Linked DNA regions of Homo sapiens. The protein of the gene in region 1 purifies or fractionates together with the protein of each later gene. This does not show direct contact. Each region holds a gene or a part of one and is shown in the gene's direction. Other genes may lie near its edges. The genes, in order: LRTM2, ALG14 and GALNT2.

Region 1 (4,093 bases):
CCCGGCAGAACGGACAGAAGGGAGTGAGCAGGAGCATCCTTCTAGGGGCATCCTGAGTCCAGGGGGTTCTTCTACACCCACCCCAGTCCTGGCTGTGAACCCCTCCAGCAAAGCAGGCAAAATGGAAGAGGGACATAGGACACGGTGATATATCGCTAGCACGGTGCTTCATCTGTCTACAGGCAGTGGACGCAAAGGAAGGGGGATTTAGGGTTCGTGCTCCAGGCTGGTGGGGCCCTGGCTCCCCTCTAGCTTGGTCCCTGACTCACTTGGCCTTCAGATCAGCCACTTCCCATCTCTTAGGATATCAATTTTTCTGACTTGCTTTGTCCTGATTGGTTAAGAAAGAGGCCTCCAAGTTCTTGAATGACAGTCTCTTCCCTTCGCATGCCTGACCCATCACAGATAAGAGCAAGGAGCCCTGAGAAGCCAAGCTCGTCCCTGGCACTGAGAACGGTCTGCAGGCTGCTGCTGCAGGCTGCCCTGTGCCCAAACTCCCAGCCTGCCAACTCTGGCATTCTGCTTCCCTAAGTAGTCCTGGCGTCGGGTGGTCAGACCCTGAGGCTCAGTGACCTCTGCATGACCATGTGATCCCTGGCTTTGTGGGGGCTCAGGGCCCTTTCCTGTAGGGTCATCTGGCACATGGACATGCCTGTGTACCCTTCTTTCGTATGACCGAGAGAAGGGTTCGGTTTTTCCTTCTCTCAGGCAGGATGGGAGACTCTGCCTCGCATGTCTCTAAAACAGGAGAAAGACCAGCTTCCCAGGGGGGCCTCCATCGGAACAGAAGTCAGCCGCTTGCTCTGTGTCTGCGCCTGTCCCTCTTTCCCCAGATGGAGGGGAAGAGAGGAGAGAGGCACAGAAGACAGGTGCAGCCGGGGGGGTGAGGGAGAGCCTGGAGGCGCAGGATGGAAGATGGAGGTGGTGGTGAAACCGCTTTCCTCCTCCCTGTGGTCGGCAGCGATTCATCCACAGGCGCCTTTTTCCACTGAAATGTGAGCGTGGCCAGGGTGAGCGCTGCCCTCGCGGCCGGCCGTGGTGCCTCTGGTGTGCGCCTGTGTGTGCTGCTGCCGCTGTCATCACAGATGCACCCCAGCTGTCACTCCCCGCTCCACTCTGGCTCGCTGCTCGCGCACACGCGTGCGCTCTCCTCCCTCGCCCCTTTCTTCCCTCTCTCCTCTCTCTCTCTCCCTCCATCCCTCTCTTTCCTTCTCAGTTTGTGACTGACCCAGCAGCCCCGTCCCCCGTCTGCCACAAGCAGTCCACCTCCTGGTGCTGTGTGCTGCGTGCCAGCCGCTGCTCCCGCTGAGTGGAGACTCTGGCACCAGTGCCCACTGCGCTCTGCCTGCCGGTGGTGTCTGGATTTCTATAGGAATCCCAGGAGGGTCTTACTGGAGGGTTGAGAGCCACCTGATTGAAGGCGTTTGCAGTCAGAGTAAAGACGGGTGAGTACCGAGTGGCTGGTAGGAAGGAATGGAGGGTTGGTGGGGACAGGGGGTGGTCGGGGCATGGGAAGTGGGCACCGGCCATCTCTGCCCTGCAGGAATAGCTGCAGTTGCTTCCTACCTGCAGGCAATTGCTGGGGCCGAAGAAGCTGCTCGGGCTCAGGCACCTGAGCATCCCAAAGGTGCACGACACTGGGAACTCTGAGCCCACAGTGCTGGGGACAAGAGCTGTGGATTCTGCTGGGAAGTGGGGAGGAGGGCAGCGCTGGCGCCAGATGACAGTCCCGGGTGGCATAGAAACCGGTCCCTGCAGCATGGGAGAAGCAGCCAAGAGCCTTGTGCTGTCGTTGTGCCCGGCTCTGCACAGACAGCCCCAAGAAACTCGGGGGTCATGGGAAGCGGTTGGGATGGCAGTCAGGTGCTGGGGACAGGGCCAGGTCAGAGGAAGGCTTGGGGTGGAGGGTGGCAGGGAGGAGGTCCTGGATGTCAGAGGCATGGGCACAGACCCAGGTCCTGGGCCTCCCTATAGCTTGCCTGCAGGTGGCTGTCCTTGGACAAGGGTGTGGAGGAACCCTCCCCCAGATGAGCATGGGCCCACTCAGCTGTGCATGAAGCCTCCCTGGTGAGGGTGAGGCTGGGAGTGGGCAGGAGAGAGAAGTATCGCAGCCCTTCCCTGCTAGCCCAAGGGCAAGACAGGAGAACCAGGCCCGCGAGAACCTGCTGGGGTGTCCCGCAGCTGTGCACCCAGCCGTCCATCTGCAAATGGGTCAGGGAGCCTTAGTGGGGGCTGGACACTGAGCTTGGGTGGGGGGTACACAGCGGGGCCAGGCCTGCCTGGCTTCTTGACCCACACAGGGGGCATGGACACCCTGAGTAGAGCGGGACAGTTGCTCTCAATCCCCCAGACCCATTTGGACAGTGCTGGAGAGAGGAGCAGCCTGACCAGGAGTCGGAAGTTCACATTCCTGCACCTCCCTGCAGGTCTGGGGCTGGGTTCCAGTTGGCGGCCCTGTCTCTCCCCCACCCCCAAGCTGTCCACATTTCTGGGGGGTGTTGGCACCCGGCTGTCAGGGCTACTTGGGCAGTGTCTCTTTGTGACTCAGATGACACCCCTGCAGCTTAGATAACTGCCTCAGGTGGGGGCGGGGAGGGAGCCGAGCACGTGGAGCTGAGGCGGGGGAAGTCCAGCTGGTAGGGAAACCCGACAGCAGCTTCCGAGCTGCCAAGAAGAGCCCAGCTTTTCCCACCCCCACCTCCCCACCGGCAGAAAGAAAGTCTCAGCACTGCCAAAAGAGGGAGACCAGGAAAGCCAGGCCCGCGGGGAGGGGTAAGGAGAGAGGCTGCTTAAGCAGCCGATCTGGTGTCTTTGGGGTTTGACAGAAGCTTGTCTGGGCCCACGAGGAGCAAACTCTGCTCCCGTTTCCCAGGCACCAGAGCCCAGGGGCCGCCTCTGGGCTGCTATGGCCTCAGTGGGCAGTGTAGGAAGGAGGAGGGGATGGCATGTATGTGATGGTTGGGGGTGTCTGGGAGTTCTGGGGGTGGGCAGAGGAGAAAGGAGCCAGCATAGAGGCTGTCTGCCCCTCTGGTCTTCCTCCTTTTTCCCCCAGCCAAGCCTCCTGTGCCCTGCCTGGGAATACCACCCTGAGCCCAGCCCCAGGGACACCACCCTGAGCCCGGCCCCAGGGCCCAGTGGACACCTTAGCCTCCTTCATGTCAGGGACCAGCTCCCATGAGGGGCCACTCAGGAGGCTTCTCTGTTCTGCTTCCCAGAGGGTCTGTTTGAGATTGAGAATATTTGACAAGGAAACGGGGGTGCAGGAGGCTGGGGGTGAGGATGGGGCATGTGTTTTAAAATGAACCAGGAGGGTATATGGCTGTTCCAAGTACAAATATAGAGATTTTTAAAACCTGGTTCCTTGCTGCCTGGGCAGTGTGTGTGATGGGGGTGATGGGCAGCTGTCCTAGAGGGCCTGGGTGCCCAGACAGGCAGCGGTAGGCGGAGCCCAGCCTAGACGGCTGTGGCAGCCTCCCCTGCGTCCTGGCCACATGGAATCTCGGGCCGTCTTTGGCCCGGGGCTCTGGCTGGCCACTCTCCGGGCTCCCTCTCAGCCTTCCTGGGGTTGGTGGAAGGGCACGGCCCCTGCAGGCCCAGGGTGTGGGCCCAGTCGTGGCTCTGCTTCTCTCTGGCCTTCTGCAGAGTGAAGGGGGCGGCAGAGTAGGCTGCAAATGCCCCCTTTACCCCTGAGTTCTGTGACTCTTCCATGCTGAGGGGTATGGACTCTTGACCAAGGGGAGATGCCAGGGGAGTGGGCACACCCTAGGGCTAGTGTGATGGCCCAGGAGTCAGGAATTCAGAGGTGGAGGCCCGATGGGCATTATCTGGCTGTGTGTCTTGGATGCTTGATGTGGAGGGATAGACATGCGCAGAAGCCTGAGAGGAAGGGTGCGGACACCAGGTCTGTGGTGAGTGTGCTGGAGGTTTCTAGCTAGAGTCTGAGACTGATTAATTAACCTCCATCTGAGGAGAAATGGAAGGGGCAGGTGCATGGAGCGGTCCAGGCTCCTGCCGTCCCAACCTAGCTCTCTGCAGTGAGTGAGTGCGTGCGGCTGTTCCGTGCTCTGAGGGGGCCGAGTGGGGTGCTAGCAGG
Region 2 (3,649 bases), on another chromosome or scaffold:
ATGTGGGCTTGGCATGGTGGCTCACGCCTGTAATCCCAGTACTTTGGGAGGCCGAGTGGGTGGATCACCTGAGGTCAGGAGTTCAAGACCAGTCTGACTAATGTGGTGAAACTCTGTCTCTACTAAAAATACAAAAATTAGCCGGGCGTGGTGGCACACGCATGTAATTGCAGCTACTCGGGAGGCTGAGGCAGGAGAGTCGCCTGAACCTGGGAGGTGGAGGTTGCAATGAGCCGAGATCACACAATTGTATTCCAGCCTGGGCAACAAGCGTGAAACTCCACCTGGGGGGAGGTGAGGGGGTGGAGGGAATTTGTGTTGGGGGAAAACTCATGTTTAATTTATCTTTGTTTGTGTTCTTGTATCACTATATACTCTTTCTTACAACAATAAGGGAGGTGGGGTGGAGGAAGCCTTGTAGGTAGGGGGAGCAGCATGACCAGAGGCAAGGAGTGAGTAACGAATAAGGTGAATGCAGAGAATGTTGAAGACATCAACCTGACTGAGGCAGAGAGCTTGTGAAACGAGACTGAAATGGGTGTGATAGGGCTCCTTGATAAGGAGTTTGACTGTTGTGCTTAAATCGTTTATAGATAGGTAGATATTCTATTGTTGTTTTCATAAACAATGTTTTCATTGTCTCAATGAACATAGTTGATTTTTAAATTTATGCTTTCAAAATTAATGTATTAAAATTTTGGAGATTATATTATTTCAGAAACTGAACATTACTCATTTGGTGAAGCTGATAAATATTTGAGGACCTGCAGTGTGCTGAGACCTCTCATAGGAGCTGGGGTTACAGTGGTGAACAAAAGATGTTTCTTAGGAAGGCCCAAGCCCTGCTGATCAGCGCTCATGCCCCCTTCACCTTACTTCTCTACATAGAACCTTCAGTGACTGGCTTCCCTTTTCCCATCCTGCTTTCGTGCCTTATTTCACCTGTACCCTTCTTCCCAGTATTGCTATCACTCTTTGAACACATGTTTCAGATCTTGTCATCTCATGCCCTAACAATCCCCATCTCCACCCAGTGGCCTCCCTACTCCTATCTCTCCATTATCTTCACCTTTCAAGTCATCTCAGCCTTTTCCGGGGTTCTTCCTTATTTTTAAGGCATTGATTTTTCATAACCATTTGCTTACCCTTCACATTTTAGTTTTTCTTACTGTCTTGCATCTTCTTTGTCTTCATATATGTGTCTTGCCCCTTTCTCACCAGTCTTCTTGATAGCAAGAGCTATGTCTTATACTGTTTTGTGCCTTCCTTAGTACCTACTGCTAGTGCTGATTTTATTTTTATACATGTATTATCTGCTTTTGATATAAAAGTTGTATTTATACGAGGGCATAGATTTATTGTTTTCAAATGTTCCTTGTGTCTTCTGAGAAATATACAATTACAGTGCCCCCCCACCCCCAACCTGAAACCATGATATTGGTATAACATGGTCAAATGGATATGTCCATTGTGGGTTTCTTAATCTTAGGACTTCTGATATTTTTTCCAGGTGGGCATACCACTGAGATCCTGAGGCTGCTTGGGAGCTTGTCCAATGCCTACTCACCTAGACATTATGTCATTGCTGACACTGATGAAATGAGTGCCAATAAAATAAATTCTTTTGAACTAGATCGAGCTGATAGAGACCCTAGTAACATGGTAAGTGACAATTTCTATTTCTAAGAAAATTACAAGTTGCACATTGAGTTTAATTGTCTCTAGTAATAATCTCATGGCACTTCAGTGCCCTACCCACAATGGGCAGTCAAATGTTTGCTGGTGATGAAATACATTTCCTTTGCTACCAAAAGATATGAATTTCTATAAAATAAATCTTCAAATTAAAAAATGGTTGCTTAGCACATCAAAAAGTTTATCCACCATGATCAAGTTGGCTTCATACCCGGGATGCAAGGTTGATTCAACATACGCAAATCAATAAATGTAATTCATCACATAAACAGAACTAAAGACAAAAACGACGTAATTATCTCAATAGACACAGAAAAGGCCTTTGATAAAATTCAACATCCTTTCGTGTTAAAAACTGTCAATAATCTAGGTATTGAAGGAACATACCTCAAAATAATAAGAGCCATATATGACAAACCCAGAGCCAATATCATACTGAATGGACAAAAGCTGGAAGCATTCCCCTTGAAAATTAGCACGAGACAAAGATGCCCTCTCTCACCACTCCTATTCAACATAGTATTGGAAGTTCTGGCCAGGGCAATCAGGAAAGAGAAAGAAATGAAGTGTATTCAGATAGGGAGAGAGGAAGTCAAATTATCCTTGCTTGCAGATGACATGATCCTATATCTAGAAAATCCCATTGTCTCAGCCCAAAAACTTCTTAAGCTGATAAGCAACTTTAGCCAAGTCTCAGGAAACAAAATCAATGTGCAGAATCACTAGCATTCCTATACACCAACAACAGGCAAGCCGAAACCCAAATCATGAATGAACTCCCATTCACAATCACTGCAAAAAGAATAAAATACCTAGGAATATAGCTAACAAGGGAAGTGAAGGACCTCTTCAAGGAGAGCTACAAACCACTGCTCAGTGAAATCAGAGAGGACACAAACAAATGGAAATACATTCCATGCTCATGGATAGGAAGAATCAATATTGTGAAATGGCTATACTGCCCAAAGTAATTTATAGATTCAATGCTATTCCCATTAAACCACCATTTACATTCTTCACAGAATTATAAGAAACTATTTTAAAATTCATATGGAACCAAAAAGGAGCCCAAATAGCCAAGACAATCCTAAGCAAAAAGAACAAAGCTGGAGGCATCATGCTACCTGACTTCAAACTATACTACAAGGCTACAGTAACCAAAACAGCGTGATACTTGTACAAAAACAGATACAGACCAATGGAACAGAATAGAGAACTCAGAAATAAGACCACACATTTACAACCATCTGATCTACAAACCTGACAAAAACGAACAATGGGGAAAGAATTTTCTATTTTGCAAGGAGTTGAACTGGCTAGCCATATGCAGAAAATTGAAGCTGGATTCCTTCCTTACACTTTATACAGAAACTAACTCAAGGTGGATTAAAGACATAAATGTAAAACCCAAAATTATAAAAACCCTAGAAGAAAATCTAAGCAGTAGTATTCAGGACACCAGCATGGGCAAAGATTTTATGATGAAAATGCCAAAAGCAATTGCAACAAAAGTAAAAATTGAAAAATGTGATCTAATTAAACTAAAGAGCTTGTGCACAGCAAAAGAAACTCATCAGAGTGAACAGACAACCTACAGGATTGGAGAAAATTTTTGCAATATGTCCATCTGACAAAGGTCTAATATACAGAGTCTACAAGGAACTTAAACAAATTTACAAGAAAAAAACTGTTATTAAAAAGTGGGCAAAGGACATGAACAGACACTTCTCAAAAGAAGACATTCATGCAGCCAACAAACATATGAAAGAAAGCTCAACATCACTGATCATTAGAGAAACGCAAATCAAAACCACAATGAGATACCATCTCACACCACTCAGAATGGCGATTATTAAAAAGTCCAGAAACAACAGATGTTGGTGAGGTTGTGGAGAAAAAGGAATGCTTTTACAGTATTGGTGGGAATGTAAATTAGTTCAACCATTGTGGAAGA
Region 3 (3,649 bases), on another chromosome or scaffold:
TGGCTCACGCCTGTAATCCCAGCACTTTGGGAGGCCGAGGCAGGCAGATCACCTGAGGTCAGAAGTTCAAGAATAGCCTGACCAACATGGAGAAATCCCATCTCTACTAAAAATACAAAAATTAGCTGGGCGTGGTGGTGCATATCTGTAATCCCAGCTGCTTGGGAGGCTGAGGCAGTAGAATCACTTGAACCCGCGAGGCGGCGGTTGTGGTGAGCCAAGATCACGCCATTGCACTCCAGCCTGGGCAACAAGAGTGAAACTCCGTCTCAAAAAAAAAACAAAACAAAAAAACAAAAAAGATAGAATTACAGATGAGGCAAACGTAGAATCTGGAAATCTCTGGTTGATTTGGTTAACCTTCTGCTGTGATAATATTGATACTTACCACATCTCTCTCACACACACACACTCCCACATAGAAATATATTCCTAATTTTGATGTATGAGCATTTTAGCAGTGACTCCATTCCTGAAGTTTACTGCAGCTCACAAATCACTAATGGTATTTGGGCAAACAGAAAAGGACCCTTGGGACACAGCAACACAGTTTTTGCCTTTAGCTGGGTGAACTGATGGCTACCTGTCCCATAACCATGGGTGTCTCCACTCCTAGAGTGACTCCTGCTACGCACCCACTCCTGACCTCCCTCCCTGCCTCCCAGCAGGCCACAGCACATCTGTGGATGGCCAAGAGCAAGACCTTCTGGGTCTGGGTGGGGAGGCTGGGTTCTTGAGGGCCTAGGGTAGTAGGTAGTAAGGGCCAGTTGGGTTTGCCCTGTGCCTGCCTAATACTAATGCCTTCTGTGGTTGGGCAGGTTTTTTGTTTTGCTGGGATTTTGATAACTACTCCTCTCTTTGTATTTTAGGACAGGACTCGGGTTGTGTCACCCATCATCGATGTCATTAATATGGACAACTTTCAGTATGTGGGGGCATCTGCTGACTTGAAGGGCGGTAGGTGTCTGTCATGGTGCCCCTGCCTAGCTCGTCCCGTCTACACCAGCATCTGATCACCACTCCCTCTCATTGTCAGGAGTGACAGTGACAACAGTGTTCACGCCGTAGTGTGTGTTCTGAGTAAAAACCACCTGTGTGCTTAACGAGTAGGACTTCATAAAGAGAAAAAAAAATAGGCTTGCTCCCTTAAAGAGCTTCCTGGGTTTCCCTTTCTCCTCTTCCTTGACCTTCTGTCACTTTTGCGAGCCATGTGGTTCCATGAACAGATATGGCGTCCTTTATGACCAGAGATGATGAAGCCCTCCTTGCAGGAATCTGGGGTGAGAAGCTTCACGGAGCTGAGGCTTTGTGGGATTCAAGGGGCTGGAGCCTGTCTTTGCCTTCTCTGCTCACCCTGGCTATTTCTCTGACAGCCTGGTCTCTTTCTGGTTGCTCAGATGGAGACCTGTGTCATCCTCAACCCCCTCGCCCTCACCAAGCCCACGTGTGACCCTGTTCTGCTGATACAGCCCCTTGCATGTATCATGGTTTCTTGTACCCCTCTTTCCCAGCCCAACACCTGTGCCTACATCACCCTGGTCCCCTTCCGTTGGAATGACCACACCAGTTTCCTGTATGTCCTCACCGCACCCACCCTGGAGCCCCAAGAGCACTTTGTCTGTTTACCCTCTTAAAAATTATCAAAGACCTCAAAGAGCTTTCATCTGTGTGAAGATGAACTATTCTAGATAGACACTGGGCAGAGGGTTAACTGATGGTCTAACATCAAAAAAGAAGACAGTAAAACTATAAAATAGGGCCTTGACCAGGTGCAGTGGCTCACGCTTATAATCCCAGCACTTTGGGGAGGCTAAGGTGGGAGGATTGCTTGAGCCCAGGAGTTCAAGACCAGCCTGGGCAACATAACAAGACTCTTGTCTCTATTAAAAAAAAAAAAAAAAATTAGCTGCGTGTGATGGCATGCCAGCTACTCGGGGCTAAGGTGGGAGGATCACTTGAGCCTGGGAGGTCAAGGCTGCAGTGAGCCACGATCAACCCTGGGAGACAGAGTGAGACCCTGCTTATTCATACACACACACATATGTGTGCAAGCAAGCCTTAACCCCAGAAAACAGAATACTTGGACTTTTTAGGGAGACTCAGCCACGGTCCTAGACATTGTGGGCTTTGGCCCCACCTGCCTCTTGCAGGCCCCGTCATCATGGGCAGGCCATTTTGCCTCTGCTTCTCAGCTTCCCCCTCTGGGAAATGGGATGATAATTGTGCTGGCCACACAGGGCATAATGGAATTAGACATCAGCGGGAGGGCGGGCATGCTTGGAGGACTGTACCTAGGGTGGGAAACATAACATTCAGGAACGATTCCCAGCAAATGGTGAGAAGTAAAATGTTTGGGGACATTAAAGAGGAGGGATCCTTAGATAGCTAGAAAGCCTGGCTTTCAGAATGTTGTATTTCCCCAAGTATTCGAAGAGCTGAGATCTACCAGGCTCTATTTCTCCCAAAGCAGCTGCGTATGTCAGAGCAGGGGCAAGAACAGCCAGGTGTTCCGTGTGGGGGTGCAGGTCTTCTGGGTCAGAGGAACGGGGCCACGTTCACCCTAAGAGCATTTTATGAAATTCCTTTAGAAAAAAAATCAAGGATGCCATTCTTAACAGATCTTTAATCTGCTATAGCCTCTCTCTTTGGACCAAATTAATAAAATAAATAATAAGATAATAGTAAACATCAAAAAAACAAAGGAAAGGTTATGTCAGCTAATCCTTAACCTTCTCTGTTAGTGAAACAGCCAGGACATTGTTTTTCTGGTTTTCCTTCGTGGCCTTTGAGGCACCATGATAAGAGCCAGCTCAGGGGCCCGCAGGGGTCTCCTCTCTGTGCATTTCTGTCCCCACTGCCTGGGCCCCTGTCCATTTCCCTCTCTCTTTGCCTGAGGCCACTCTATCCTGCAGTGAGGGAGCTGGGAGGCCTCTTTGTCCAGAGCCATAAATTCTTGGCCAGCCCAGGACACTCAGAAACCCTCACCCGCCATCCTTCAGTCACTGGGGCTGTCAGGGCGGACAGACTATGAATTCAAAGCATGCAGACAAATCCAAACTTAGGCATTGCAAAAGCCCTGTTGACAAAAAGCCTGATGGCAGAGAGCTTAAGAGGATTGAAAGATGCATGCCCTAGAGTCATTAGGTTTTGCTGTCAGACCCTTGGAATTGGAAATGCAGCACCATGAGCCATGTGTTTGCCAAGAAGTGGCCTCCTGATGCACCAGGACAGCTTCCGCAGGTGGAGCCTGCTGGCCTCCAAGAGGCACTATGTGTGTGACCCTGGGAGCAAGAGCGAGACCTGAGGCCCTGCAGATGCCCACAACCAAGTCCGGGTACAGGGTCTAGGCTCTTCTATCCTCAGGGGTCTGTGGATTCCAAAAATGAAATGCAACAGGTGCCAAATATATCTGAAATTGAAGCTTATTTGCCCAGCTTGGCAACTTCCGCTGGCTCATTTTCCCTTAAAGTTTTCATATTCCCAGCATGTTCCCACTCCATTCTTGCTGCAAATACAGTCTGAAGTTTGCTGGCCCAGGGAACTGACAAAGCCTCGTTCCCTCCCCAGCATTGCCTTCCCCTGGGGCAGTGTTGGAGGTACCACGGCTTGATTTTCATGTTGGATGCTCTTTTTCCTCACATCCTTACAG

The links.
Region 2: the proteins of LRTM2 (region 1) and ALG14 purify together in Homo sapiens (affinity purification with mass spectrometry; one large-scale study listed by BioGRID and IntAct). This does not show direct contact.
Region 3: the proteins of LRTM2 (region 1) and GALNT2 purify together in Homo sapiens (affinity purification with mass spectrometry; one large-scale study listed by BioGRID and IntAct). This does not show direct contact.

The regions. Positions count from the first base shown.
Region 1 is NC_000012.12:1,819,370-1,823,462, forward strand, and holds the start of LRTM2 (leucine-rich repeat and transmembrane domain-containing protein 2 precursor), read left to right. Parts: upstream 1-1,195; 5' UTR 1,196-1,445; intron 1,446-4,093.
Region 2 is NC_000001.11:95,062,879-95,066,527, reverse strand, and holds part of ALG14 (UDP-N-acetylglucosamine transferase subunit ALG14), read left to right. Parts: intron 1-1,510; coding exon 1,511-1,662; intron 1,663-3,649. UniProt on the Homo sapiens protein: Part of the UDP-N-acetylglucosamine transferase complex that operates in the biosynthetic pathway of dolichol-linked oligosaccharides, the glycan precursors employed in protein asparagine (N)-glycosylation.
Region 3 is NC_000001.11:230,245,194-230,248,842, forward strand, and holds part of GALNT2 (polypeptide N-acetylgalactosaminyltransferase 2 precursor), read left to right. Parts: intron 1-869; coding exon 870-957; intron 958-3,649. UniProt on the Homo sapiens protein: Catalyzes the initial reaction in O-linked oligosaccharide biosynthesis, the transfer of an N-acetyl-D-galactosamine residue to a serine or threonine residue on the protein receptor.